Linked DNA regions of Homo sapiens: region 1 is linked to region 2. Evidence: fine-mapped expression QTL. A gene starts in region 2. The other region holds a variant in brackets. All regions are shown on one strand. Distances are from middle to middle. Region 1 has its middle 9.2 kb from the start of GP1BA. Region 2 holds the start of ENO3 (enolase 3).

Region 1 (16,574 bases), 29 kb after region 2:
TTTTATATTTTTAGTAGAGACGGGGTTTCACCATGTTGGTCAGCCTGGTCTCGAACTCCTCATCTCAAGTGATCCACCCACATTGGCTTCCCGAAGTGCTGGGATTAGAGGCATGAGCCACCGCGCCCGGCATTCTCTTCTTTTCTTACGCTATGCAACCACCTGAGATTATCCTCATCCATTCCCTTGCCTTCAACCACCACCTACAACCTAATGACTCTCAAATCTATGTCTCTAGTCCAGACCCTTCTCCTGAGACACAAGCACATATGTCCAGCTGCCTTCTGGACATCTCTACTTGGATGTCCCACAGACACCAAAACAATATGTTCAAAGCTGAACTCACCATCTCTCTCCAAATGGCTTCTCCTCCTGTGTTGCTCAGCCTGGTGAGTGGCACCATCATCCACTCATTTACCTAACCATTCAGTCAACACAAACAAAATCCCTAATAGTCATCTCTAACGTCTCCCGTCTTTCATCCCCATCACCAAGTCCTGGTGATTTTATCTCCCGTCTCTCTCAAATCTACTCTCCATCCACACCATCCTGCCAGCATTCCTAGTCCAAGGTTGTTGTTGTTTCTTGTTCATATCCTCCTCCTCCTCTTCTTCTTCCTCCTCTTCCTCCTTTCTTCTTCTTCTTCTTTTTTTTTTTTTTTTTTTTTGAGATGGAGTCTTGCCCTGTCTCCCAGGCTGGAGTGCAATGGCTCCATCTCGGCTCACTGCCACCTCTGCCTCCTGGGTTCAAGCAATTCTCCTGCCTCAGCCTCCTGAGTAGCTGGGATTACAGGCACCCGCCATCATGCCCGGCTAATTTTTCATATCTTTAGTAGAGACGGGGTTTTACCATGTTGTCCAGGCTGGTCTCCTTTGCTCTGTCTCCCAGGCTGGAGTGCAGTGGCGCAATCATGCCTCACTCAAGGACAAACTCCTGGACCCAAGGGATCCTCCTGCTTCAGCCTCCCAAGGAGTTGGGACTACAGGCATGCACCACCACACCTGGCTGATTTAAAAATTTTTTTCTAGAGACAGAAAAACATTTGTTTGTTGCCTAGGCTGGTCTCAAACTCCTGGGCTCAAGCGATCCTCCCACCTCGGCCTCCCAAAGTGCTAGGAGTACAGGCGTGAGCCACCATGCCCTGCCCAGGGCACCATCTTCTCGCTACTGCTTCCCTGCAACAGCCTCCTTGCTGGTCTCCCAACTTCCCAATTCCCTTTCTTCTCTTTATTCTCCACTGGAGTGGTCTTTCAGAACTGCACATTTGCTCATATCCTTCCACTGCTTGAAATCCACCAATGGGCCAGGCACAGTGGCTCACACCTGTAATCCTAGCAGTTTGGGAGGCCGAGGCGGGTGGATCACCTGAGGTCAGGGGTTTGAGACCAGCCTGGCCAACATGGTGAAAACCCATCTCTACTAAATATACAAAAAATTAGCCAGACGTGGTGGCCGGCACCTGTAATCCCAGCTACTAGGGAGGCTGAGGCAGGAGAACAGCTTGAGCCCCAGGGGGCATAGGTTGCAGTGAGCTGAGATCACACCCCCTCACTCCAGCCTGGGCGAAAGAGCGAAATTCTGTCTCTAAATAAATAAATAAATTCACCAATGGCTCCTCATAGATCTCAGGAGAAAGTCTAAAGTTCCCAACATGGCCTGCAGGGTCCTGCAAGGTCTCCCCTTTGCCTGCCTGTCCAGCCCCATCTGTTCCCACTCTGCCCTTACTCTTGATCATTCTCTCCTGTGCCTGAACTTTTTCTTCAACCCTTATCCCCTTCTGCCTAACTTTTACTTATTTGGCAAGTTCCAGCTCAGAATTCCTTCCTCTGGAAAGCCTTTTCTGACTTCCGAAGACCAGGTTAAATGTCTATTACAGAAAGTCAGACACCATGCCCTGCCTGTTGGTCCACTGCCCCTTCTGTGATGAGAATGTGGCCCTGCACTGTTCCCCAGTAGGAGCTCCATGCAGCCGCCTGAGCCTGCCCCTATCTGCTTCCAGCTGGTGACCGGACAAGGGATAGACACTTAAGCCAGATGCAGTTAATCCATAGATTTGCCATTTATATAATTTGCCCGCTGCAAAGGTATTGGAAAATGTGGGGAAGACGAGGTAGTATAGAAAGTGAGGTGGGAGTTTGTCTGGAGAGAAGCCATGAAATTGAATAAGGACCCCGAGCCCAGAGGCTGTTGATTTTTTTTTTTCTTTTTGACCCTCACCCAGGCTGGAGCGCGGCGGCGCCATCTCCGCTCACTGCAACCTGCTCATGCGATCCTCCCGCCTCAGCCTCCCGAGCAGCTGGGATCACAGGTGCACACCACCACGCCGGGCTAATTTTCGTATTTTTAGTAGAGAGGGCATTTCACCATGTTGGCCAGGATGGTCTTGATCTCTTTTTTCGCTCTTGTTGCCCAGGCTGGAGTTCAATGGAGTGATCTCGGCTCATGGCGACCTCCGCCTCCTGGGTTCATGTGATTCTCCTGCCTCAGCCTCCCAAGTAGCTGGGATTACAGGCATACACCACCACGCCCAACTAATTTTGTATTTTTAGTGGAGACTGGATTTCTCCATGTTGATCAGGCTGGTCTTGATCTTCCGACCTCAGGTGATCAGCCTGCTTCGACCTCCCAAAGTGCTGGGATTACCGGCATGAGCCACTGCGTCCAGCCTGCTCATATTTTATTTAGGACTTTTGCCTCTAAGTTAGAAAATAGGAGTGGCTTATAGATCTCTTTTGGGGATCTTTGTCTGTTTTTCTGTTTGTTTGGTTTTATGATCAGAGTTTATGCTAGCCTTGTAAAATAAATTGGAAAACTATATTCTCTGGAACAGTTATAGATAGGGATTTTCTGTTCTACATAGATTGGTGGAGTTCACCTATAAACCCATCTGGAGGCTGGGCACGGTGGCTCACGCCTGTAATCCCAGCACTTTGGGAGGCTGAGGCGGGCGGATCATGAGGTCAGGAGATCGAGACCATCCTGGCTAACACGGTGAAACCCCATCTCTACTAAAAAATACCAAAAAAATTAGCTGGGCGTGGTGGCGGGCGCCTGTAGTCCCAGCTACTTGGGAGGCTGAGGCAGGAGAATGGCATGAACCCAGGAGGCAGAGCTTGCAGTGAGCCGAGATCGTGCCACTGCACTCCAGCCTGGGCGACAGAGCAAGACTCCGTCTCAAAAAAAAAAAAAAAAAACCATCTGGATGTGGTGCCACTTCGGAGATAGGTTTTTGTGTTTTTTTGTGTGCTTGGTTTGGTGTGATTTGAGACAGGGTCTCACTTTGTCACCCAGGTGGAATACAGTGGTGCCATCATGGCTCACTGCAGCCTCAACCTCCCAGGCTCAAGCGATCTTCCCACCTCAGTCTCCTGAGTAGCTGGGACCTCAGGCATGTGCCACTATGCCCAGCTATTGTTTTAAATTTTTTGTAGAGACAGGGTCTCACTATGTTACCCAGGCTGGTCTTGAACTTCTGGGCTCAAGCAGTCCTCCTCTCTCCACCTCCCAGCCACTCAAAAGGCTGAGGTAGGAGGACTGTTTGAGCCCGGGAGGTCGAGGCTGCAGAAAGCCATGATTGCAGCACTGCACTCCGGCCTGGGTGACAGGGTGAGACCCTGTCTCAAAATAAAATAAATAAATAAATAAGTTCCTTCCCTAATATTCTTCCTGTTATTGAAGCCACCTTTGCAAAATTATGACTGAGACAGTGAAAGAGATCTAACCTAAGCAACTCCATCTTGCTTCTAAGCTTTAAGCTGTGCTTGTTCCTTCCTGAGCATAGGCTGAACTAACTTTGAGAGGAACTTAGTTTATTGTTTATAGTTACAGGCGTGAGCCATCACACCCGGCCTAGAGTTTATAGTTTAAAACAAAGACGGTAATAGCCCTTTCCCAAAACAAACCTACTTCTTGCCTGAGAACTAGACTGCCTTTGTAGTACTAACAAACTAGCCAAGAGATTACCAATTATGGTTTAGGAGTCCGGGCGCAGTGGCTCACGCCTGTAATCCCAGCACTTTGGGAGGCCGAGGTGGGCAGGTCACCTGAGGTCAGGAGTTTGAGACCAGCCTGACCAACGTGGTGAAACCCCATCTCCACTAAAGATACAAAAATTAGCCGGGTGTGGTGGCTCCCACCTGTAATCCCAGCTGCTCCGGAGGCTGAGGCAGGAAAATGGCGTGAACCCGGGAGGCGGAGGTTTCAGTGAGCCGAGACCGCGCCACTGCACTCCAGCCTGGCCGACCGAGCAAGACTGTCTCAAAAAAAAAAAAAAAAAAAAAGAAAGAAATTACGGTTTAGGAGTCATGCAGCTGGAGGCTACAGGATTCTGACCCTCCCTGGACTGCCCGTAAGATCAGTGCTTGAGACGTTTTGCCGACCCTGCACTTGATGGATCAGCTGGCGCCACCCAGATCAATAAACTGGCTCATCTGATCTTGTGGCCCCCACCCAGGAACTGACTCAGCACAAGAGGACAGCTTCAGCTTCCCATATTTTCATCTCTGACCTGATCAATCAGCACTCCCGGCTCACTGGCTTTCCCCCACCCACCAAGTTGTTCTTAAAAATTCCAATCCCTGAATGCTCAGGGAGACTGATTTGAGTAACAGTAAAACTCTGGCCTCCCACACAGTCGGCTCTGTGTGAATTCCTCTTTCTCTATCGCAATTCCCCCATCATGATAAATCGGCTCTGTCTAGGCAGCGGGCAAGGTGAACCCATTGGACGGTTGCCTTATTACCTGAGCCTAGCCCAGGGGTGTGACCTAATCACGGACAAGTGTACTCCTCCTAGGATTTCACGTGGTGAATAAGGTGGTACGAGGATGCAGAACTGGTCTTCATTCATTTCAGCAAAGTGTTCAGGAAAAGCTGTAGGGAAGTTCCTGCTACTAAGGTCCCCAAAGTTAGCTGATTCCTGAGCTATCCTGTGTTGTCAGTGTTCTCTTGCGTCCAGTGAGCTCCTGTATCTCTTTCCAAAAAAATTTCTGTTGGATTAGGTTAGCTAGAGTAGATTTCTATTACATGCATTTGAAGAAACCTAATCCAGTTCTTGTTTTTGTTGTTGTTGAGACAGTCTCACTCTGTCGCCCAGGCTGGAGTGCAGTGGCACAATCTCGGCTCACTGAAACCTCCTGCTCACTGCAACCTCTGCCTCCCGGGTTCAAGCGATTATCCTGCTTTAGCCTCCCGAGTAGCTGGGATTACAGGCACACGCCACCACGCCCAGCTAATTTTTGTATTTTTGTAGAGACGGGGTTTCACCATGTTGGCCAGGCTGGTCTTGAACTCCTGACCTCAGGTGATCTGCCCACCTTGGCCTCCCAAAGTGCTGGGATGACAGGTGGGAGCCACCGCACCTGGCCCCTAATCCAGTTCTCTAGTGTAGTTCATTTATTTTTCCTTCCTTCCTTTCTTTTTCTTTCTTTCGCTCTCTCTTTTTTTTTTTTTTTTTTTTTTTTTTTTTGAGATAGGGTCTCATCCTGTTACCCAGAGCCCAGACGGGAGTGCAGTGGAGTGGCATGATTGTGGCTCACTGCAACCTCCACCTCCCAGGCTCAAGCGATTCTCCCACCTTGGCCTGCCTAGTAGCTGGGACTGCAGGCATGTGCCACCACGTCTGGTTAATTTTTGTTTTTGTTTTTTTGTAGAGATGGAATTTGCCATGTTGCACAGGCTGGTCTTGAACTCCTGGACTCAAGTGATCCACCTGCCTCAGCCTCCCAAAGTGCTGGGATTACAGGCCTGAGCCTATGCGCCCACCCTAGTATAGTTCATTTCTAAAGAATTTGTAGCCGGGTGCGGTGGCTCACGCCTGTAATCCCAGCACTTTGGGAGGCCGAGGCGGGTGGATCATGAGGTCAGGAGATCGAGACCATCCTGGCTAACAAGGTGAAACCCCGTCTCTACTAAAAATACAAAAAATTAGCCGGGCGCGGTGGCGGGCGCCTGTAGTCCCAGCTACTCGGGAGGCTGAGGCAGGAGAATGGCGTGAACCCGGGAAGCGGAGCTTGCAGTGAGCCGAGATTGCGCCACTGCAGTCCGCAGTCCCGCCTGGGCGACAGAGCGAGACTCCGTCTCAAAAAAAAAAAAAAAAAAAAAAAAAAAAAAAGAATTTGTATAGAAGATGCCGGGCGTGGTGGCTCATGCCTGTAATCCCAGCACTTTGGGAGGCCGAGGTGGGTGGATCACGAGGTCAAGAGATTGAGAGCATCCTGGCCAACATGGTGAAACCTATCTCTACTAAAAATACAAAAAATTAGCCAGGAGTGGTGGCGGGCGCCTGTAGTCCCAGCTACTCAGGAGGCTGAGGCAGGAGAATCACTTGGACCCGGGAGGCGGAGGTTGCAGTGAGCCAAGATTGCACCATTGCACTCCAGCCTGGTGACACAATGAGACTCCATCTTAAGACAAAAAAAAAAAAAGAATTTGTACAGAAGACATTAGTTGGAGATGTATCCAAAATCCATTCAACTTTTACTCTTTTTTCTTTTGAGAAACTATTCCTACCTCATCCCTAGAATTTTTGGTGACATTGACTCTCAGCTGCGAGAGTGGATCTAAGCCACTTAATAGACTGCCTCCTCTCTGACACAGTTTAAGGACCCAACAAGTACCCTGACATAAGCTGATTAGGGTGTTCATGGTCATAGTGATTGGCCCAGGGATAGAAATAGGAAGTAAGTTGGTCCTTTCATGATGAAACCCAAGACTCTTGTTTGATGGTTAAGGTATACAAACCTTCTCTGAAAGTGGATGAGGAAATGTGTAACTCCAGGTGAGCTGTCAGCTGTTGGCATTATTCTGTGATTATGATGTGATCTGGCCTTCGGATGAAGCTATCATCAGAAAAGGTATGTGTTCATCAACAGTTGACTGGATAAAGAAAATGTGAGGTCAGATGTGGTGGCTCCAGCTTGTAATCCCAGCACTTTGGGAGGCCAGGGCCAGGGTGGGAGGATCATTTGAGCCCAGGTGCTGGAGGCTGCAGTGAGCTATGATCATGCCACTGCACTCCAGCCTGGGTGACAGAGCGAAACCCTGTCTCTAAAAATTAATTAATTAGGCCAGGCACGGTGGCTTGCGCCTGTAATCCCAGCACTTTGGGAGGCCGAGGCGGGCAGATCACTTGAGGTCAGGAGTTTGAGACCAGCCTGGCCAACATAGTTAAACCCTGTCTCTACTAAAAATACAAAAATTAGCTGGGCGTGGTGGCAGGCGCCTGTAATCCCAGCTACT[CGGGAGGCTGAGG/G]CAGGAGAGTCATTTGAACCCAGGAGGTGGAGGTTGCAGTGAGCTGAGATTGTGCCACTACACTGCAGCCCGGGTGACAGAGTGAGACTCCATCTCAAAAAAAAAAAAAAGTAATTAATTAAAGAAAATGTGATACACACACAAACACACACCATGAAATGCTATGCAGCCACTAAAAATAATGAAATCATGTCCTTTGCAGCAGCATGAATGGAGCTGGAGGCCATTATCCTAAGTGAACTAACTCAGAAACAGAAAACCAAACACTACATGTTCTCACCTATAAGTGGGAACTAAACAATGGTTACACATGGACATAAAGATGGAAATAATAGACATTAGGGGCTTTGAAAGAGGGGAGCTTGGGAGGGAAATGAGCATTGGACAATTACCTAATGGGGCCAGGCACGGTGGCTCACGCCTGTAATCCCAGGAGGCCGAAGCGGATGGATCACCTGAGGTCAGGAGTTCGAGACCAGCGGGGCCAACATGGCGAAACCCCGTCTCTACTAAAAATACAAAAATTAGCCAGGCTTGGTGGTGGGCACCTGTAATCCCAGCTACTCGGGAGGCTGAGGAAGGAGAATCGCTTGAACCCAGGAGGCAGAGGTTCTGGTGAGCCGAAATCGGGCCACTACATTCCAGATTGGGCGATAGAGCAAGATTCCGTCTCAAAAAAAAAAAAAAAAAAAATTACCTAATGGGTCCAGTGTTGACTGTTTGGGTGATGGGTACACTAGAAGCCCAGTCCTCACCAGGATGCAATATATTCATCTAACAAATATGTACATGTACCCCCTGAACCAAAACTAAAATAAACATTTCAGAAAAGAGCTTGGGGATGGTGGCTCATGCTTGTAATCCCTGCACTTTGGGAGGCCAAAGCTCGAAGATTGCTTAAATTTAGGAGTTTGAGACTGGCCTGGGTAACACAGTGAGGCCTCATCTCTACCAAAAACAAAAACGAAAACATTAGCTGGACTTGGTGGTGTACTTTTTTTTTTTTTTTTTTTTTTGAGACGGAGTCTTGCTCTGTCGCCCAGGCTGGAGTGCAATGGCGCGATCTTGGCTCACTGCAAGCTCCACCTCCTGGGTTCACGCCATTCTCCTGCCTCAGCCTCCCGAGTAGCTGGGACTACAGGCGCCCGCCACCACGCCCAGCTAATTTTTTTGTTTTGTTTTTAGTAGAGATGGGGTTTCACCATATTAGCCAGGATGGTCTCGATTTCCTGACCTCGTGATCTGCCCACCTCGGCCTCCCAAAGTGCTGGGATTACAGGCGTGAGCCACCGCACCCAGCCTGGTGGTGTACTCTTGTAGTCTCAGCTACTGAGGCAGGAGGATCGCTTTAGCCCAGGAGGCCAGGGCTGCAGTGAAACATGATCATGTCACTGCACTCCAGTCTGGACGACAGAGCCAGACCCTGTCTCCCTGTCTCAAAAAAAAAAAAAAAAAAAATTAGTCGGACATGGTGGCAGGCACCTGTAATCCCATCTACTCCAGAGGCTGAGGCAGGAGAATTGCTTGAACCAGGGAGGTGGAGGGTGCAGTTAGCCGAGATCATGCCATTGCACCCCAGCCTTGGTGGCAAAAGTGAAACTCTGTCTCAAAAAAAAAAAAAAAAGAAAAGAAAGAAAAAAATTATTTATTTTTTTGAGGAGAATTCAGGGAAGAAATGAGTTGGGTTTGTTTGTTTTGTTTTTCTATTTTATTTATTTATTTTTTGAGACAGAGTCTCACTCTGTCGCTTAGACTGGAGTGCAATGGCACAATCTCGGCTCACTGCAACCTCCGCCTCCCGGGTTGAAGCAATTTTCCTGCCTCAGCCTCCTGAGTAGCTGGGATTACAGACATGCGCCACCACACCCGGCTAATTTTGTATTTTTAGTAGAGACGGGGTTTCTCCATGTTGGTCAGGCTGGTCTCGAACTCCCGACTTCAGGTGATCCGCCTGCCTCGGCCTCCCAAAGTGCTGGGATTACAGGAGTGAGCCACTGCACCGGCCCTGAATTTTTAGTAGAGACAGGGTTTCACCGGGTAGGCCAGGCTGGTCTTTGAACTCCTGACCTCAAATGATCCACCCGCCTCGGCTTCCCAAAGTGCTGGGATTACAAGTGTGAGCCACCACACCTGGCTCCGTGTAGTTTTTTTTTTTTTTTTTTTTTTTTGAGACAGAGTCTTGCTTTCTCACCCAGGTTGGAATGCAGTGGTGTGATCACAGCTCACTGCAGCCTCCGCCTCCTGGGCTCAAGTGATCCAAACACCTCAGCCTCCCAAGTAGCTGGGACTACAGGTGTGCACCACTACACCTGGGTAATTTTTGTATTTTTGGTAGAGATTGGGTTTCCTCATGTTGGCCAGGCTAGTCTTGAACTCCTGACCTCAAGTGATCCGCCTGCCTCCCCAAGTGCTGGGATTACAGGCGTGAGCCACTGCGACTGGCCTAGACTAGTGTTTGACCAAACAACTGACTACTACTATTAGTCTGGCCAAGTTGACACATAAAATTATCCATCACATCATACCTTGGATGTTTATTGTAAACTGCAATACATTTTAAAGTTTACAATAGGCCAGGTATGGTGGGAGGACGGCTTGAGCCCAGGAATCCCAGACCAGCCTGGGCAACAGAGCAAGATCCCACCTCTAAAAAAAAAAAAGAAAGAAAAAAAGTTTATATTAAAAAAAAATCCATCTGAGAGACTTCTGCTTATGGGAAGATGGAGTACACTTTCTTTTACCTATTCCACCTGCTAAATACAACAAAACCCTGGATATTATACATAAAACACAAAAGCTAAACACGGTGGCAGGTTCCTGTAATCTCAGCTATTCAGGAGGCTGAGGCAGGAGAATCGATTGAACCTGGGAGGTAGAGGTTGCAGTGAGCTGAGATTGCACCACTGTTCTCCAGCCAGGGCAACAGAGCAAGAGTCTGTCTCAAAAAACAGAAAAGAAAAGAAAACAAAAATGAAAAATGAAAAAACAACCCACTATTCTAGATGTTGCTGTGAAGGTATTTTCAGATGTGATTAACCTTTAAATCAGTATGCTTGGAGTAAAGCAGATTATCTTTCATAATGTGGGTGGGCCTCATCCAACCAGTTGAATGGCTTAGGAGGAAAGGCTGAGGTTCCCTTGAGAAGGAAGGAATTCTGCCTCCAGACTGACTACCTCTGGACCCAGGATTACGTAAACTGTTCCCTTGGTCTCTAGCTTGCTGACTCCCTAGTCAAGGTTTTGGACTTGCTAGCGCACATAATCATGAATCATGTCAGCCAATTCCTTAAAATAAATATTTGTCGTGTGTTTGTGTGTGTTTGTGTGTGTATGTATACATCCTATTGGTTGTATTGGGTCTCACTCTGTTGCCCAGGGTGGAGTGTAGTGGCGTGATCATGGTTCACTGCAACCTCCTGGGCTCAAGCCATCCTCCTGCCTCAGCCACCCGGGTAGCTGGGACTACAGGCGCGTGCTACCATGTCTGGTTATGGTTCTGTTTTTGTAGAGTGCCCTGACTAGTACCCATGATTTTCACTTTCTGGAATTTTTTTTTTTTTGAGACAGGATCTGTCTCTGTCACCCAGGCTAGAGTGCAGTGGTGCAATCACGGCTCACTACAACCTCCGCCTACCAGGCTTGAGCAATCCTCCCACCTCAGCCTGCCCAGTAGCTGGGACTGCAGGCACATACCACCACACCAAGCTGATTTTTGTATTTTTAGTGGAAATGGGGTTTCGCCATATTGCCCAGGCTGGTCTGGAACACTCTTGCCTTGGCCTCTCAAAATGCTGGGATTACATTAGCGAGCCACCAAGCCCGGCCTCTGGAATTTGTTATTCTCTTTATGTTCTATGTGCATTTTAAAATAATATGTATTCCCTGTTGAGATAATATATACTCTCAAATCCTGTATACTTTTTCTTATTTTTTGTGTACTTGATCTGTCCATTTCTGGGCGAGGTATGTTAAAATCAAGCACCCCAATTGTGGATTGTTCACTTTATTCTTTATTTCCATACAATTTTACTTTATTTTAAAGCTATGTTTTTAGATAGACAAATGCCTATGACTATTAGCTAGTCAACTTGCTGGCTGCTGTAACATATTACCACAAATCGAGTGGCTTGCGAAAATAAAATGTATCCTCTCACAGTTCTGGAGGCCAGAAGTCTGAAATCGAGGTGTCCCCATGGCCACACTTCCCCCGGAGGCTCTAGGAGAGAATGCTCCCCTGCCTTTTCCAGTGTCTGGCAGCTGCCAGCATTCCAACGCTTTCCTTGCTTTTGGAGCTTTATCATTCTAATCTCTGCTAGTGTCTTTATATCACTTTCGCTTCTGTGTGTCTGTGTCTTCTCCTCTCCTGTCTCTTATAAGGACACTTGTCATTGATTTTCGGGCCCTCTTGGATAATCTAGAATCATCTCCTTATCTCAGGTCCTTAATTCATTTACATCTCAAAGTTCCTTTTTCCAAATAAGGTAACATTCACAGATGTCAGGGATTAGGATATGGATGTATCTTTTGAGGGGGGCCATCATTCAGCCCGCTACAACCATGATAGCTTCTTGGTATATTATACCTTTTATAAAGATGAAATATCCCCCTTGGTCCCTTTTAATGCTTTCTGTTTTGAATTCTTTTGTTTGGCATTAATATTGCTATATTTGTTTTCTTTATATTAGTATTTTTATGCCATAATTTATTCTCTTATTTTCCAGATTTTTTTTTTTTTTTTTTTTTTTGAGACGGAGTTTCACTCTTGTTACCCAGGCTGGAGTGCAATGGCACGATCTCGGCTCACCACAACCTCTGCCTCCCGGGGTTCAGGTGATTCTCCTGCTTCAGCCTCCTGAGTAGCTGGGATTACAGGTGCCCGGCTAATTTTTTGGTATTTTTAGTAGAGATGGGGTTTCACCATGATGGCCAGGATGGTCGCGAATTCCTAACCTCAGGTGATCCACCTGCCTGGGCCTCCCAAAGTGCTGGGATTACAGGCATGAGCCACCATGCCTGGAATTTTCCAGCTTTTTACCAACTTGTTTTTGTTGTCTCTTGCAAACAGCATGTAGCAGAATTATTTTATTTATTTATTTATTTATTTATTTATTTATTTTTGAGACAGAGTCTCGCTCTTTGCCCAGGCTGGTGTGCAGTGGTGCAATCTCAGCTCACTGCAACCTCCTCCTCCCAGGTTCAAGCGATTCTCCTGCCTCAGCCTCCCGAGTAGCTGGGACTACAGGTGTGTGCCACCATGCCTGGGTAATTTTTGTATTTTTAGTAGAGATAGGGTTTCACCATGTTGGCCAAGCTGCCCCTGAACTCCTGACCTCAGGTGATCCACCCTCCTCGGCCTCTTAAAGTGCTGGGATTACAAGTGTAAGCCACCATGCCCAGCTAGCAATCATTGATTTTTAACATAACATTTAAATGTAACTTTCTATCAAAATCTAGAATTAATAACTATTGATTGCCCCCAAAACAAGACAAGGTTCTTAGAATGTGTTTCGTTTTCTATCCCTACCCCTTCATCTTTCATGAGATATCACCGAGAATTTAAATTATAGATTACTACTTCCATTGTATTTTATGTATTTGTTTACTTATTTATTTATTTTTTGAGACAGGGTCTCGTTCTGTCACCCAGGCTGGAGTGCAGTGGTGCGATCATAGTTCACTGCAACCTCTAACTCCTGGGATCAAGCAATCCTCCCAACTCAGCTTCCTAAGTATCTGGGACTAGAGGTGCCCACCACCACATCCAGCTAATTTAAAAATTTTTAGGCCAGGCAGGGTGGCTTACGCCTGTAATCCCAGCACATTGGGAGGCTAAAGCAGGCAGATCACGGGAGGTCAGGAGTTCGAGACCAGCGTGACAAACATGGTGAAACCCCATCTCTACTAAAAATACAAAAATTAGCCAGGTGTGGTGGCAGGCGCCTGTAATCCCAGCTACTGGGGAGGCTGAGGCAGGAGAATCGCTTGAACCCAGAAGGCGGAGGTTGCAGTGAGCCGAGATCGTGCCATTGCACTCTAGCCTGGGTGACAAGAGCGAGACTCCATCTCAGAAAAAAAAAAAATTTTAGTAGAGATGAGGTCTCACTAGGTTATCCAGGCAGATCTTAAACTCCTGGGCTTGATTCTCCCACAACTGCTTCCATTTTAAAACATCAGTTAGAGCTTTCTTAGACTTACCAATGCATTAGCTGCTTTCCTTGCTTACTGTTGCTTTGTGAGTCTCATGTCTTCTGGGATTCTGGGATGACATCTGTCACTCCTTTCAGCTGCTCAGCACCCGAAGGCCTTTTCCTATGCTCCAGACCTCCCACATCATGAGCAAGACCCTGCCTCTCACTAGCAAATGGGAAAGCACCAGACCCTTGGTTCCTTTGCAGCCAGACCCCAGGCATCTCTCTGGGGCTTCTCCAGGCAGGCTTTCCTGTTTGCCTGAAGGGCCACACCAAATCTGAACAGGGCACCAGGAGGCAATTCCACTTGGTCTCTACCTGCAGGATGGGCCTACTTCTAAGAGCAGCAACCATTTAATACGATATTTTTTTCCCCAGTGTCCTAAACACTTTTGAGTTAACATTAGTTGCCTAGGCTGGAGTGCAATGGTGTGATCTTGGCTCGCTGCAACCTCAGCTTCTTGGGTTCAAGCGATTCTCCTGTCTCAGCCTCCCCAGTAACTGGCGCGCCCAACCATGCCCAGCTAATTTTTTTGTGTTTTACTAGAGACGGGGTTTCACTACGTTGGCGAGGCTGGTCTCAAACTCCTAACCTCAAGTGATCCACCCACCTCAGCTTCTAGAAATGCTGGGATTACAGGTGTGAGCCACTGCACCCGGCCAGACATTATATTTCTAAGACATATTCATATTGATGTACCCACAGCTATAATTCATTCATTCGCAATGCTTTATTGTATTTAATGAGTAAAAGGCAGTTTTCCTTTCTGCTGTTTATGATCATTTGCCTTGTTTCCACTTTTTTCCCCCATTATAAATAATAGCCAGGCTCAGTGGCTCATAGATGTAATCCCAGCACTTTGGGGGCTGAGACAGGATTGCTTGACTGCAGAGGCTTGAGACCAGCCTGGGCAACATAGTAAGACCTCATCTCTGCTAAAAATGAAAACAAAAATAAATCAGCCAGGTATGGTAGCAGGTGCCTGTGGTCCCACCTACTCGGGAGGCTGAGGTGGGAGGATCACTTGAGCCCGGGAGGCGGAGGTTGCAGTGAGCTGAGATTGCACCACTGCAGTCCAGTCTGGGTGACAGAGCAAGACAACTGCCTCAAAATAAATAAATAATAAAATAAAATAAAATAATGAATTAATAAATTAAAATAAGAAACTGGGGGGCGATGTGAGTCCCAGACATTAGCATTTTTGCTAAGATTTTATTTTTATATAATTTAAAACTTACAGAAAAAAATACCAGAATAGTACAAAGAACTGCATGCCCTCTTCCCAGATTCACCATGTGTTAACATTTTGTCTCATTTGCTTGATCATATTGTCTTTCTCCCTCTTGAGTGTTTTTTTCTGGAACCATTTGAGAACAAGCTGAAGACATTATGTTTCTTTACCACTAAATATTTCAGTATGTGTTTCCTAAAACAAAGACATTTCCTTATATACTACAGTGCAGTTATTAATTTTAGGAAATATAACATTGATACAATACTCACATCCAATCTACAGTCCATAATCCCATTTAGCCAATTGTCCTAAAATGTCCTTGACGGTTGTTGTTTTTTGCTTTTTTTCTTTCCTGTCCAGAATCCAATCCAGGGCCATATCACTTTAATTTGCTTTAGTTCCTTAACCTGTCTTTATTTTTCATAAATTTGACATTTTTGAAAATTATAGTCCAGTAATTATGTAGAGTTTCCCTCAATTTGTCAGATGTTTCCACAAGGTTGTATTTGGGTTATGTTTTTCTGGCAGGAATATTACACCAGCGATCTTTCTTGGTGGGTCCTATCAGGAAACACATTATATCAATTTCACCCTTAATGGGGATGTTAACTTTGATCCTTTGGTTAAGGTGGCATCCGCCATGTTTCTCCACTGTGGAGATTCTGTTTTTTTACTTTGTAACTAAGGAGCACTTTCGTGGAGAGATACTTTGATACTATGTAAATATCTTGTTCCTTCTCAATCTCTGGCCTATATCCTGCAGCATCCACTGATAATTTTTTTTTTTTTTGAGACAGAGTTTCACTCTTGTTGCCTAGGCTGGAGTGCAATGGCGTGATCGTTGATCGTGGCTCACCACAACCTCTGCCTCCCTGGTCCCGGTTCAAGCAGTTCTCCTGCCTCAGCCTACTGAGTAGCTGGAATTACAGGCACGCGCCACCACATCCAGCTAATTTTTGTATTTTTAGTAGAGACGGGGTTTCACCATGTTGGCCAGGCTGGTCTCGAACTCCTGACCTCGTGATCCGCCTGCCTCGGCCTCCCAAAGTGCTGGGATTACAGATGTGAGCCGCCGTGCCTGGCTATCCACTGATAATTCTTGCTGGAATTAATTCCTGTCATGATGACAGAAAAACTTTCCTTTAAAAAAAAAGTGATTTAGCTGACTCTGAGCACATTGTCTATGGGTTAGCTCTGTTCTCCGAGAAGCAACAACAACAAAAATAGGCTGGGTGCAGTGGCTCACTCCTGTAATCCCAGCACTTTGGGAAGCGGAGGCGGGTGGATCACTTGAGGACAGGAGTTCAAGACGAGTCTGGGTAACACAGCAAAACCCTGTCTCTACTGAAAAATATTTTTAAAAATTAGCCTGGTGTGGTGGTGCATGTCTGTAATCCCAGCTATGCTCAGGAGGCTGAGGCACAAGAACCCCTTGAACCTGGGAGGCAGGGGTTGCAGTGAGCAGAGATCTCGCCACTTGCACTCCAGCCTGGGTGATGGAGCGAGACTCTGTCTAAATAAATAAAAATACAAAAATTAGGCCTGGCACGGTGGCTTACATCTGTAATCTAGCACTTTGGGAGGCCGAGGTGGGTGGATCACCTGAGGTCAGGAGTTCGAGACCAGCCTGGCCAACATAGTGAAACCCCATCTCTACTAAAAATGCAAAAATTAGCCGGTCATAGTGGCACATGCCTGTAGTCTCACCTACTCCGGAGGCTGAAGCAGGAGAATTGCTTGAACCCAGGAGGCAGAGATTGCAGTGAGCTGAGATCGTGCAACTGCACTCCAGCCTGGGTGACAGAGCAAGACCCCATCTCAAAAATAAATAAATAAATAAATGCAAAAAATAAAAAGTGATTTAAAAGCCAGGGGCGATGGCTCATGGCTGTAATTCCAGT
Region 2 (10,936 bases):
TGCAGCCCAGGCTGGAGTGCAGTGGTACGAACATAGTGTACTGCAGCCTCAACCTCCTGGGCTCAAGCGATCCTCTCAACTCAGCCTCCCAGGTATCTGGGACTACAGGCGAGCGCCACCATGCCCGGCTCCATTGGCAACTCTGCAGCTTCATTTTACCATATAGCATCTGCTTCCCCTACCTCCTTTGGAAATGTGAACACCTCTGTTGTTCTAGAACCACCCAGCTTCCTCTGTGAGTCCCTCACCTCCTCTTTGTCCTAGCAGGTTACATATCTATTTGCCTCCCCTCCCCGCCCCCATCTCGCCACCTCCTGTTTTCCCCAGCTCAGCCCAGAAACCAGCATCCCCTAGCTCCCACAAAGAAGCACACAGCTGTCTTGGTTGGCACCAGTGTTTATTTCAGGAAGCAGGTCTGGAAGACCTGGGTCTGTCCAGTGGAGTCCTGGAGCCTCCAGCTTCTCACTTGGCCTTCGGGTTACGGAACTTGCGTCCAGCAAAGATTGCCTTGTCCCCAAGAGCCTCCTCGATCCTAGAATGCAGGCAAGGTTAGGGCTGCTGAACTTCCAACCTAACAGCCTCCAGCACCCCAATGCCCAGGCCCACTGTTCCCGCTGTACCTCATGAGTTGGTTGTATTTGGCCAGACGCTCCGAGCGGCAGGGGGCGCCAGTCTTGATCTGATGAGGGAAGAAGAATTTGGAGGGTTAGGTGAGGCTGGAAAGGAGGGGTTGGACCTGGCCCCAAGGGAGCATTAACCTCAAAGGCAGGAGGCCAGGGACCCCAAGAAAACTTGGTGAGACACTCAGTAGAGAGAAGCTACAAGTACCTGTCCTGTGCAGAGCCCCACCACAAGGTCAGCAATGAATGTGTCCTCAGTCTCCCCAGAGCGGTGGCTCACCATCACCCCCCAGCCATTAGACTGAGCCAGTTTGCACCTGAGTGGAGAGGACATTTGATGTGGCCTTCTAGAACCTCCTCAGTGGGAAAGCAGGGGTTGGGTGGGGCCTCTCCCTTCTGTTTTGGGTAGCAAGCACTCTGCAGGGAGGGCAGTGACTAAGTTCTTTGGGAAGTAGGAGAGGAAAAGACTTATCTTGATTTCGGGCTCTTGAGATGCTGCTGAGAACAGCGGAATCTGAGAGAGGAATGGTGTGGGCTGGGGGTGGGGGGTCATGACAGAGCCACAGGGGCAAAGCTCTTGGAGTCAGGCCAAGGATTAGTCAAACAAAGTCTTGAGATCAAGGTGTGGGTAAGTCAGGTGCCAGGGGAAAGGTAAGCTTGGAGTTGGTGGGTAAGACTGTAGCTGGAGTGGGCAGAGCTGGGGCAGAGGCAGGCTATGGTGAGCCTCAGGGTCAGGAGGCACTCACGCCTGGATCGATTCGGTCACCGAGCCGATCTGGTTGACCTTCAGCAGCAGACAGTTGCAGGCCTTCTTCTCAACGGCCTGGGCAATCCTCTTGGGGTTGGTGACTGTCAAGTCATCCCCCACAATCTGGATGTTCACCCCCGAGAGGAAGGAGGTCCAAGTGGCCCAGTCATCCTGGTCAAAGGGGTCTTCGATGGAGACCACTGGTGGGGTTTGGAGCAGAGACAGGGCAGAGACAGAGCAGAGACAGGGCAGAGACAGGGCAGAGACAGAGCAGAGACAGGGCAGAGACAGGGCAGAGACAGGGCAGAGACAGAGCAGAGACAGGGCAGAGACAAGGCAGAGACAGGGCAGAGACACGGCTAGAGGTCAGAAGGAGCCTCATGGAGGGGTGACAGGGCAGAAGAGCTTAAATGGGGATTTTAATGGGGCTAAGAATTGGAAGGATCCAAGTCGATGGCAAAGCAGGTCACTGAAATCAGTATATTAGGCAGCTGCACGGGATTCGGGCAGGAACACTGGGACACCCGAACGCCTCACCAGGATAGTTCTTGATAAAGCTCTTATACAGCTCTCCGAGCTTCTCCCCAGTGATGTGCCGTGCGGGATCATCAGGCGACTTGAAGTCAAGATCGTACTTCCCATTGCGATAGAACTCAGATGCTGCCACATCCATGCCGATCACCACCTTGTCTGGGTAACCAGCCGCCTGGATGGCCGTCTTCAGCAGCTCCAGGGCTGGGGGAGGACCAAGAAAGGACCTGAGACTCCAGTGCCCCTTGTCTGCAGCCTCCCCTGCCCATGTGGAGATCCAGGGGGTCTGCCCCCCAGGGTGCTCAGCACTGACCCTCATTGTTCTCCAGGATGTTGGGTGCGAAGCCACCTTCATCACCCACATTGGTGGCATCCTTCCCATACTTGGCCTTGATGACCCCCTTGAGGTGGTGGTAGACCTCGGCGCCAATGCGCATGGCTTCCTTGAAGGAGCTGGCTCCCACAGGCAGAATCATGAACTCCTGCATGGCCAGCTTGTTTCCAGCATGGGAGCCCCCGTTGATCACATTGAAGGCCTGAGATGGGGAGAGGGTGTCTGGACCTGGGCCGGGGCATGAGAGCTCAAGAAGGGACAGGGGCGGGGGGTGTTGGGGTGGAAACCTGGCTTCCCTACTTACTAGCTCAGTGGTCTAGGATGAGTAGTTTTGCTCAAGAGCCTCTTTCCTCATTTCTTTCTTTTTTTTTTTTTTTTTTTGAGACGGAGTCTCACTTTGTCACCAGGCTGGAGTGCAATGGCGCAACCTCCGCCTCCCGGGTTCAAGTGATTCTCCTGCCTTAGCCTCCCTAGTAGCTGGGACTATAGGTGGGTGCCACCATGCCTGGCTAATTTTTGTATTTTTAGTAGAGACGGGGTTTCACCATGTTGGTCAGGCTGGTCTCGAACTCCTGACCTTGTGATCTGCCCGCCTCGGCCTCCCGAAGTGCTGGGATTACAGGCGTGAGCCACTGTGCCCAGCCTCTCTTTCCTCATTTCTGTAAAATGGGGATAGCACCTACTTCCCTGTAGGATCTTTTGCTGAAAATTAGAGAAATTGAATGTAAAGTTCTTAGCATGTGCCTAGTATATAATAGCTAACACTTTTATATAGCACTTACTACATGCCACGCACTAAGTACTTTACATGTATTAGCCCATTTCATTCTCAAAACACCTCTATTCATTGGTATCGTTATTACCCCCCATTTTACAGATGGGGAAACTGAGACAGAGCAGTTAAAGAACTTGCCTAAAATCATACAACTAATAACAGGCAGAGCCAGGATTCAAACCCAGCAATCTATCTCTAGAGACCATGCTCTTATGCAATCCTCCTAGTAAGTAACAAGAAATGGTAACATTATTATTGAGATTAAATTCAAAGAGTTTCCATTCATCAAGAAGGCACTGGTTTAAGAAGGACTCAAGAAGATACAAAGAAATGCCAAGATCTTTGCCTCAAAGAAACTCTCAATATGATTTGGGTGTAGGGTGTGGGGTTGGAACGAGGCTGGAGTTATCGAGCCTAGGATTGGAATGGGAAGGAACTGGGTTATATGGCAGGGAAGGAAGCACATAGAGCCTTCAGGGAAGGTTTGGATTGTGGAAGAGAGGGAGGGGTGGGACCACAGCAGGAGAGATTCAATTTCAGGAAACTGCTTCTTAGGAGCTGGTCTGAAAGGTGGATTTTCCAGGGGGGCCAACCCTGGCTGGGCGGGGTTGGCTCTGTCCAGGCGAGATCTGGGAAGGGCGGGTAGCTGCACTCACTGGCACTGGGAGTATGAGGTCAGGGTTCCCAGCGAGATCTGCGATGTGGCGGTACAGGGGGACCCCCTTCTCAGCTGCTCCCGCCTTACACACGGCCAAGGACACGCCCAGGATGGCATTGGCCCCAAACTTGGCTGGAAGGAGGCAAGCGGGAAGAAAGGATGAGAGCTTCTGCAGGGTTTGGGGTGGCTACTCCAGGAAGACGCCAGAGCTCCAAACCACTGAGCATGAAGAATTGGTTAACAGATCTCTCCCCAACAGCCTGAGTAGCCCTGGGAACCCCCACCCCGGGGGAATGTGTCAGCTGCATGTCTGTGTCCACAGCCCGGCCCAGGCCTGGCAGAAGGCAGGCATAGGAAATGCCTGTGGAATGAACACAAATCCATCCAGCTGCGGTGTGACCCAAAATGGGGGACCCAGAAATAACCCATCAGGCCTCACCCCATGGCCTCTCGCCATCTCTCCCACACCTCATCCCTTCCCCACCGCTAGCCCTTCACTCACACTTATTCTCGGTCCCATCTAGCTCAATCATAAATTTGTCAACTTTTTCTTGATCCACAACGCTTAGTTTCTGGAAGGGTGAGTTTGAGAAGGGAGAGCAGAGGTCAGATTTCTCAGAAGTCAGGGCACATGCAGGGGAAGGATAAGGGAAAATGTTTCGGGAGAGGCCTGTCTGGGCTGAGGGAGCAGGGGCATGGGGAGGAGGCTGCAGCGAGCGGGCTTCCCCACTTGCCTTTTGCAGCAGAGCAGGGCCCAGAGTATTGTTGATGTTCTCCACAGCCTTCAGGACTCCTAGACAGGCCAGAGGATGAGTTTTGGAGCTCAATCAACTGGGCCCCTTTCTGTGGACCCCAGCTCCTCAAGAGCCTTGGGGGTTCCAGTCCTCTACCCATTGTGCACCCATGTCCTAAAGCCGCCCACACAGGCTCCTTCTGCGCTGGTGTCTCCTCACCTTTCCCCAGGTAGCGGCCTTTGTCTCCGTCTCTTAGTTCCAGAGCCTCATAGATACCCGTGGAAGCCCCACTGGGCACAGCTGCTCGGAATCGGCCTGGGACAGGAGGAATTGGAAGATCACAGGGATGGCTGGGCGCGGTGGCCCATGCCTGTAATCCCAGCACTTTGAGAGGCCTAGGCAGGTGGATCACTTGAGATCAGGAGTTCAAGACCAGCCTGGCTAACATGGCGAAACCGTCTCTGCTAAAAATACAAAAATTAGCTGAGGCCGGGCGCGGTGGCTCACGCCTGTAATCCCAGCACTTTGGGAGGCCAAGGCGGGCGGATCACGAGATCAGGAGATCGAGACAATCCTGGCTGACACCGTGAAACCCCATCTCTACTAAAAATACAAAAAATTAGCTGTAGTCCCAGCTACTCGGGAGGCTGAGGCAGGAGAATGGCGTGAACCCGGGAGGCGGAGCTTGCAGTGAGCCTAGATCGCGCCACTGCACTCCAGCCTGGGCGACAGAGTGAGACTCCATCTCAAAAAAAAAAAAAAAAAATTAGCTGGGCGTGATGGCACAGGCCTGTAATCCCAGCTACTTGGGAGGCTGAGGCACAAGAATCACTTAAACCCGGGAGGCAGAGGTTGCAGTGAGCTGAGATTGCACCACTGCACTCCAGCCCGGGCCACAGAGCGAGACTCCATCTCAAAACAAAACAAAACAAAAAAAAGGACCTCACAGGGAGTCTCTCTACCTCTCAAAGGGCTGAGGTGTCCTCTCTGAGCTCAGGGACAGGAGGCAGTGCAGAGAGAGACTCCTGCTTCTCCTAGCTTCCAGCTCTGGTTCCACGTTGGAAGAAGGGGGCTTGGGAAGAAGTCTGGGAAAGGGAACCCGAGAGAAAGGAGAGGATATGGCACAGAACTGGGGGGCAAAGGCCAAAGGGTTGGGGTCTTCGGAGGCGAGCCTATCCAATGGGCCTTGTGTTACCCTTGGCCGTGTGCAGGTCCACCTCCACCGTGGGGTTGCCCCTGGAGTCCAAGATTTCCCGGGCAAAGATTTTCTGCATGGCCATGGCTGCAGGACAGGAGGTGTGAGTGAGTGTAGACAGTTGATCTCTTAAGGAACCAGAAATCCCTTGCCCTTTAAGATTCTTCCCCACTCCAAGAAGGCAGGTGCTGGAGCTAAAAATACCCTACAAAAAGGTCACAGACCAAAGAGGCAGGCGCAGCCCCCTCCCCCACTCAGAACAGCTCTTATTCCACCCTCCCATCCTAAGAATCCAGGGGCCTCTTATCTATAGCTCCTGGGATGCCACCGCTCACCAAGCCCCCACCTCCCCCAAGCCTCCACTTAGGCCTTCTCCTTCCACCCCTCTGGTCAAGCAGTCTGTTCTCCATGGCTGGTGGCCTTCAAATCCTTTCTGGTTCTCATTTTCCTGCTCCGAAATCTCCTTGGGCCCCCAATTCCCTATCAGGTTCCAGCTCTAGCTGCCCTTTTCTATCCATCCCTGCTGCCCTCCTCACAGCCTCCTTTCCCTAGATCCTTCGGTGTTCCCAGAGTTTGTCCCATCTGCTTGCTCCAGCCGCCCCTTCCCCCAGCTTTTTCAAGCATCTCCAGTCCCAGGAGGAAAAAAAGCAGAAATGTCCCCCACTTCCTCCAAGCCAATACCATGCTCACCCTTTACTACCTCCACCCCCAGGGCTGGAAGATTCACCCGACCTGGGATGTCTTCGCTGGAGGTTTGGATGGAGCTCCGAGTCTAGGTGGCAGCTGGGACAGTGTCAGCTCACCCCCTCTCAGGCTGCGCATTTATCCCTGAGCCACTCGGTCCCCAGCCAGCCCCGCCTCTCTTTCTCTCCATCCTCCCCCCTTCACACTGGGCTGGCAGCCAAGTGCCCACTACAGCCTGAAGCAGAAGCCTCTGGCCCTGGGCACCTGCCCCCTTACCAAAGGTCAACTACTATCCCCCACTTTCTGTCTCCCAATAACAGTCCCTGTTCTAATTCCACCCTTTGGGAGGAGCAAGGGAGGGGCTACAGATGAGGGGTCTCCCCCCACCCCAGGATTACATTCCCCTTTTGCAAACGTCAAGAGGAATGAGTGACCTTTAGGAAAGGCCAGGGGTAACCTGAGCCCTGCAAGGCTGGGGAGGGGGCCTGGAAGAGGGGCTGCAAGATTGACGTCCACACATGCTCAGATCGCTGGGCGGGCCTCTGTCCTCAGTGGGGGAAAGGACGGGACCCCCCACCCCAGAAGGCGAGAGGGTCTCACCTCTTAGGGTCCTCATAACGGCCATTCTCGGCGCCGCCCCATCCTACCCTCTCCAGGCCAGCCAGCGCCGGGATGAGTTAGGGGACAGGAAACGAATTTAGACAGGCCCTTTCGGCTGGCAAGGCGCCCGACTGATAACGCTGGGACAGCACTTGTCGCCCGGCGTGGGGACTGTCGGTCAGAGCCCCTTTCCCCATCGACTGTGGGCGCTCAGCGCACGGCCCCAGCCCATCAATGAATGGGGCTGAATCAACAGTGAACAAAAATGAATGGACCGAGGACGGGTGGCCTTTTGTGAGCTTCTGCACGCCTGGGGCTCTTCCGGCGCCCCACTTGTAGCACTGCGGGGAGGTAGGTCTCTGCCCTCGGTAGAGATCTCCACTTTGCCGGCTCTGGGGCCAGTGCGGGGTCTGCCCCGAGCTCCTCTGCAGCCATACCAGCCGACCGGCGGGGGACACACGGCGCCTCGGCCCGACTCGGAGGCCCTTCCCGTCGGCGCCGGGGCAGCGCGCGCCCGGTGACTCACCCCCGCCGCCCTCTCCCCACCCCTGCTCCCCGCCCCGCCGGCCCGCGCGGCCTCCCAGCCCCCACCCCAGGCCACCTGCCCCGCCACCCGTCCAGTCTCCCCTCTCGCCCCGCCCCCTCATCTCAGGCCGCTCCTCCCGGGATTTTTCCACCCTGGGGTAGGGGTGCGGTGGGCCAGGGGTCAGGAGATGGCGGGCGGGGAGCGCCGCCACGTGCCCGGGTGCGGCCCCGCCCGAGCCCGCCAGTGACTCAGCCGCGCGGCTGTCGAGGAACACGGACTCGAGGGGCGTCGGGGACTGTGGGATTCGGCGTGGACGCCAGGGATGCGCGCCGCGCTCGGGAGGAGAGAGAAAACCAACCCCCTTTCCGCCCGGGCCGCGCTCGGTGACCCCTTGCCCCTAGCCCAGGCTCCGGAAGCCGCCCAGCCCTCGGCGGCGGGTCGGAGGAGGCGGTTTCACCGCGGCCGCCGCACGGCCGTCCCGCCCGTCCCGCCCTCCCCAGGTGGCTGTGAGCGCACATCTGACTGCGAAGAAACCCAAAGGGCCCGAAGTGGGACTTTCCCCTTCTTGAAAAAGTTGCCACTCTTGCAACTTGAGTATTCTTCCGCCTCGAAAAATAGCCCCGCCTGTTAAGCCCCGCGGGTGTCCGCGCTCTGTGACCTCTGCAGACACAGGCCAAGGGGCACGGCCGGTGATCCAGACATTGCCTGCCTGGGGCGGGCGGGGCTGGGATGTGGGGTGAGGCCCTGGGCTAGAGCCGATCCAGAGAAGGGACAATCCTCTAGACTGAGAATGGGCCCTGGTGAACCCAACCTGCACGACCCGAGAAGACGCTGGGGACAGAAGTGGCCCCGGTGGGTGCCTTCAGCTATGAGAGCGACTAGAGGATTTGGCCAAACTCTTCTTTGCTTTCTTATTACTTGAATAAGTAAAATCAAGGGTGGTGAGGCGGCAGCGCGCACGGCTTCGCCCCCGCCCCTTCCGCCAGGCGGGAGACACGTCCCCAGCCCGCCTTCCTTTCCCGCAGGGTCCACACGGGTCGGGCCGGGCGCGCTCCCGTGCAGCCGGCTCCGGCCCCGACCGCCCCATGCACTCCCGGCCCCGGCGCAGGCGCAGGCGCGGGCACACGCGCCGCCGCCCGCCGGTCCTTCCCTTCGGCGGAGGTGGGGGAAGGAGGAGTCATCCCGTTTAACCCTGGGCTCCCCGAACTCTCCTTAATTTGCTAAATTTGCAGCTTGCTAATTCCTCCTGCTTTCTCCTTCCTTCCTTCTTCTGGCTCACTCCCTGCCCCGATACCAAAGTCTGGTTTATATTCAGTGCAAATTGGAGCAAACCCTACCCTTCACCTCTCTCCCGCCACCCCCCATCCTTCTGCATTGCTTTCCATCGAACTCTGCAAATTTTGCAATAGGGGGAGGGATTTTTAAAATTGCATTTGCAAAGTTCGGTGTCTGGGCTGGCGAGTGGGGGAGGGAGGGAATGGGGAGTAGGCCCCGCCCCTACCGTCCTTTGCAAATAAAAATCTAGCGGGGCGGGGGGGGGGAGGAGCAGGAAGTGGCGGTGCGAGGGCTGCTGCACAGCGAGCGGAGCCGCGGTCCGGACGGCAGCGCGTGCCCCGAGCTCTCCGCCTCCCCCCGCCCGCCAGCCGAGGCAGCTCGAGCCCAGTCCGCGGCCCCAGCAGCAGCGCCGAGAGCAGCCCCAGTAGCAGCGCCATGGCCGGGTGGAACGCCTACATCGACAACCTCATGGCGGACGGGACCTGTCAGGACGCGGCCATCGTGGGCTACAAGGACTCGCCCTCCGTCTGGGCCGCCGTCCCCGGGAAAACGTTCGTCAACATCACGGTACTGCGAGGCCTGCGCGGTCCGGGGCACTGCTCCGGTTTGGACCCTGAGGGAGGGACTTGGGTGGGGGCGGGCGCGGTCTAGGGCGCGCAGCGAGAGGCCCTGACTGGGTGCTTGCCCTGGAAGCGGCGCGAATGGCGGCTGCACGTGAGTGGGTCCCTCAGTTGCCCGTAGGTCCTATGCCCCAGGCGGCGGCGCCCATCCCGCCCGCTACCCCGCTTTCCGCGACGGGGCGTTACATCCGGGGCACAGGGCGGGGAGGGGCGCGGCGCCCGGTGCGGCGGCCCACTTCCGCCTCTCCCAGGGCGGGGCGGGGACGCGCCTCAGTTTTTACTGGGGATTGGGATTGAGAGGGGACCCGGGGATCCTTGGACCCCCAGCTCCCCGTCCGGCTGCCAGCCCGCGTCCCTCTACCATTGTTTCTCCTGGTGCGGAAGGGAGCCCCAGGCGCGTGGTCTTGGTCCCTTGCCCACCCTCTGTGGGCTTCTGGCCCCTCCTAACTCCGTTAGAGAGGGCGAGGCCACCACACGCCCCCCCAGCTCAGCACGTTGGATTCAACATTCCTGCGAGGCCAATCCCGGAAGTCCCCTCGCCCTCCCTTCCCGCCATCCGGCGGGGCCTGGAGCAGGGGAACTTTGTGAGAAGTTCTGAGACAGCATAAGCGAAAGTATATTGGTTTACTACCGCTGCTCCCACCACCATCTCCCTGTCCACACTGCCCGGAAGTGGGGAGGGGGAGCGGAAGTTCAAAAGGGGGGGGAAGGGGGTTTCCGGGCGGGAGGGGACCGGATGTGGGGGCTTGGGGTGAAAGGGGGAGGGGGGAAAGGTTCCCGGGGTACCTAGACCCGAGAGCTGGCCTGCCGGGTCTGGCCCCTGTCCACCTTCAAAAGTTTTCCAACTTTCCCGGAAAGCCCCCAGGGGTCTGCTTCCTCATCTCAGAGCAGAGATACCTGGAGCTAAACTCTAGGTTACTTGGAGACCCAGGCGTCCGGGCCCTAACAGCTCCTGCAGAACCTTTGACCAAATAAGGGCAAAGTTGCTTCTCTTGCCTCGCCCGCCCCCCTCCCTTCCCCTCTCCGCTTCTGCTTTTCCTGAAGGAGAGTTCTGAGCATCCAAAGGCTCCTCACTTACCTCACTGACTCCCTTTATTTCCTGGGTTTACTTTCCCCATTAACACTGACATCTAAATCTCTAGAGGAGTATGTCATCCCTTCCTCCCTGGTTCCATATTCTAAGTTTCAGAATCATGATCTTTTTCTGCACTAACGTCCCACAGTCCTCAGAGTTTCTCACAGTTCATTGATGTGTACTGAGTATATAATTTATACTTAGCCCCCACGGCGGGGTGGTTCTCAGAAGTGGAAGACAGGTGGGTCTTTGGAGAACACGGTGGGAATCTTGGTGCACTGACTAACTTGATGGGCGCTTGGTTCCTCTTCCAGCCAGCTGAGGTGGGTGTCCTGGTTGGCAAAGACCGGTCAAGTTTTTACGTGAATGGGCTGACACTTGGGGGCCAGAAATGTTCGGTGATCCGGGACTCACTGCTGCAGGATGGGGAATTTAGCATGGATCTTCGTACCAAGAGCACCGGTGGGGCCCCCACCTTCAATGTCACTGTCACCAAGACTGACAAGAGTGAGTTCCTGAGTCTTACCCTTCCTTTAGCTCCAAGATCTCTAATGTACCGCC

The links.
Region 1: its variant is fine-mapped to the expression of ENO3 in whole blood (TOPMed, PIP 0.93).

Annotation. Positions count from the first base shown.
Region 1 is chr17:4,914,777-4,931,350 of GRCh38, reverse strand. No RefSeq gene overlaps it. Among named protein-coding and RNA genes, the nearest start is that of GP1BA, 9.2 kb to the left of the region's middle. The variant CGGGAGGCTGAGG/G (reference allele first, on the strand shown) is at 7,239.
Region 2 is chr17:4,946,574-4,957,509 of GRCh38, reverse strand. ENO3 (enolase 3) reads right to left here and starts at 6,391. Exons shown (of 12, transcript NM_053013.4): 1 at 6,328-6,391; 2 at 5,596-5,682; 3 at 4,620-4,715; 4 at 4,401-4,459; 5 at 4,169-4,238; 6 at 3,665-3,798; 7 at 2,213-2,435; 8 at 1,906-2,103; 9 at 1,367-1,568; 10 at 829-937; 11 at 621-679; 12 at 381-532. The coding sequence starts at 5,680. The coding sequence ends at 463. It overlaps PFN1 (profilin 1), which reads left to right and starts at 8,980. Exons shown (of 3, transcript NM_005022.4): 1 at 8,980-9,247; 2 at 10,690-10,882. The coding sequence starts at 9,116. RefSeq lists enhancers at 5,125-5,859, 8,021-8,190 and silencers at 7,241-7,470, 7,521-7,930, 8,391-8,640, 8,771-9,110, 9,381-9,450 and 1 more.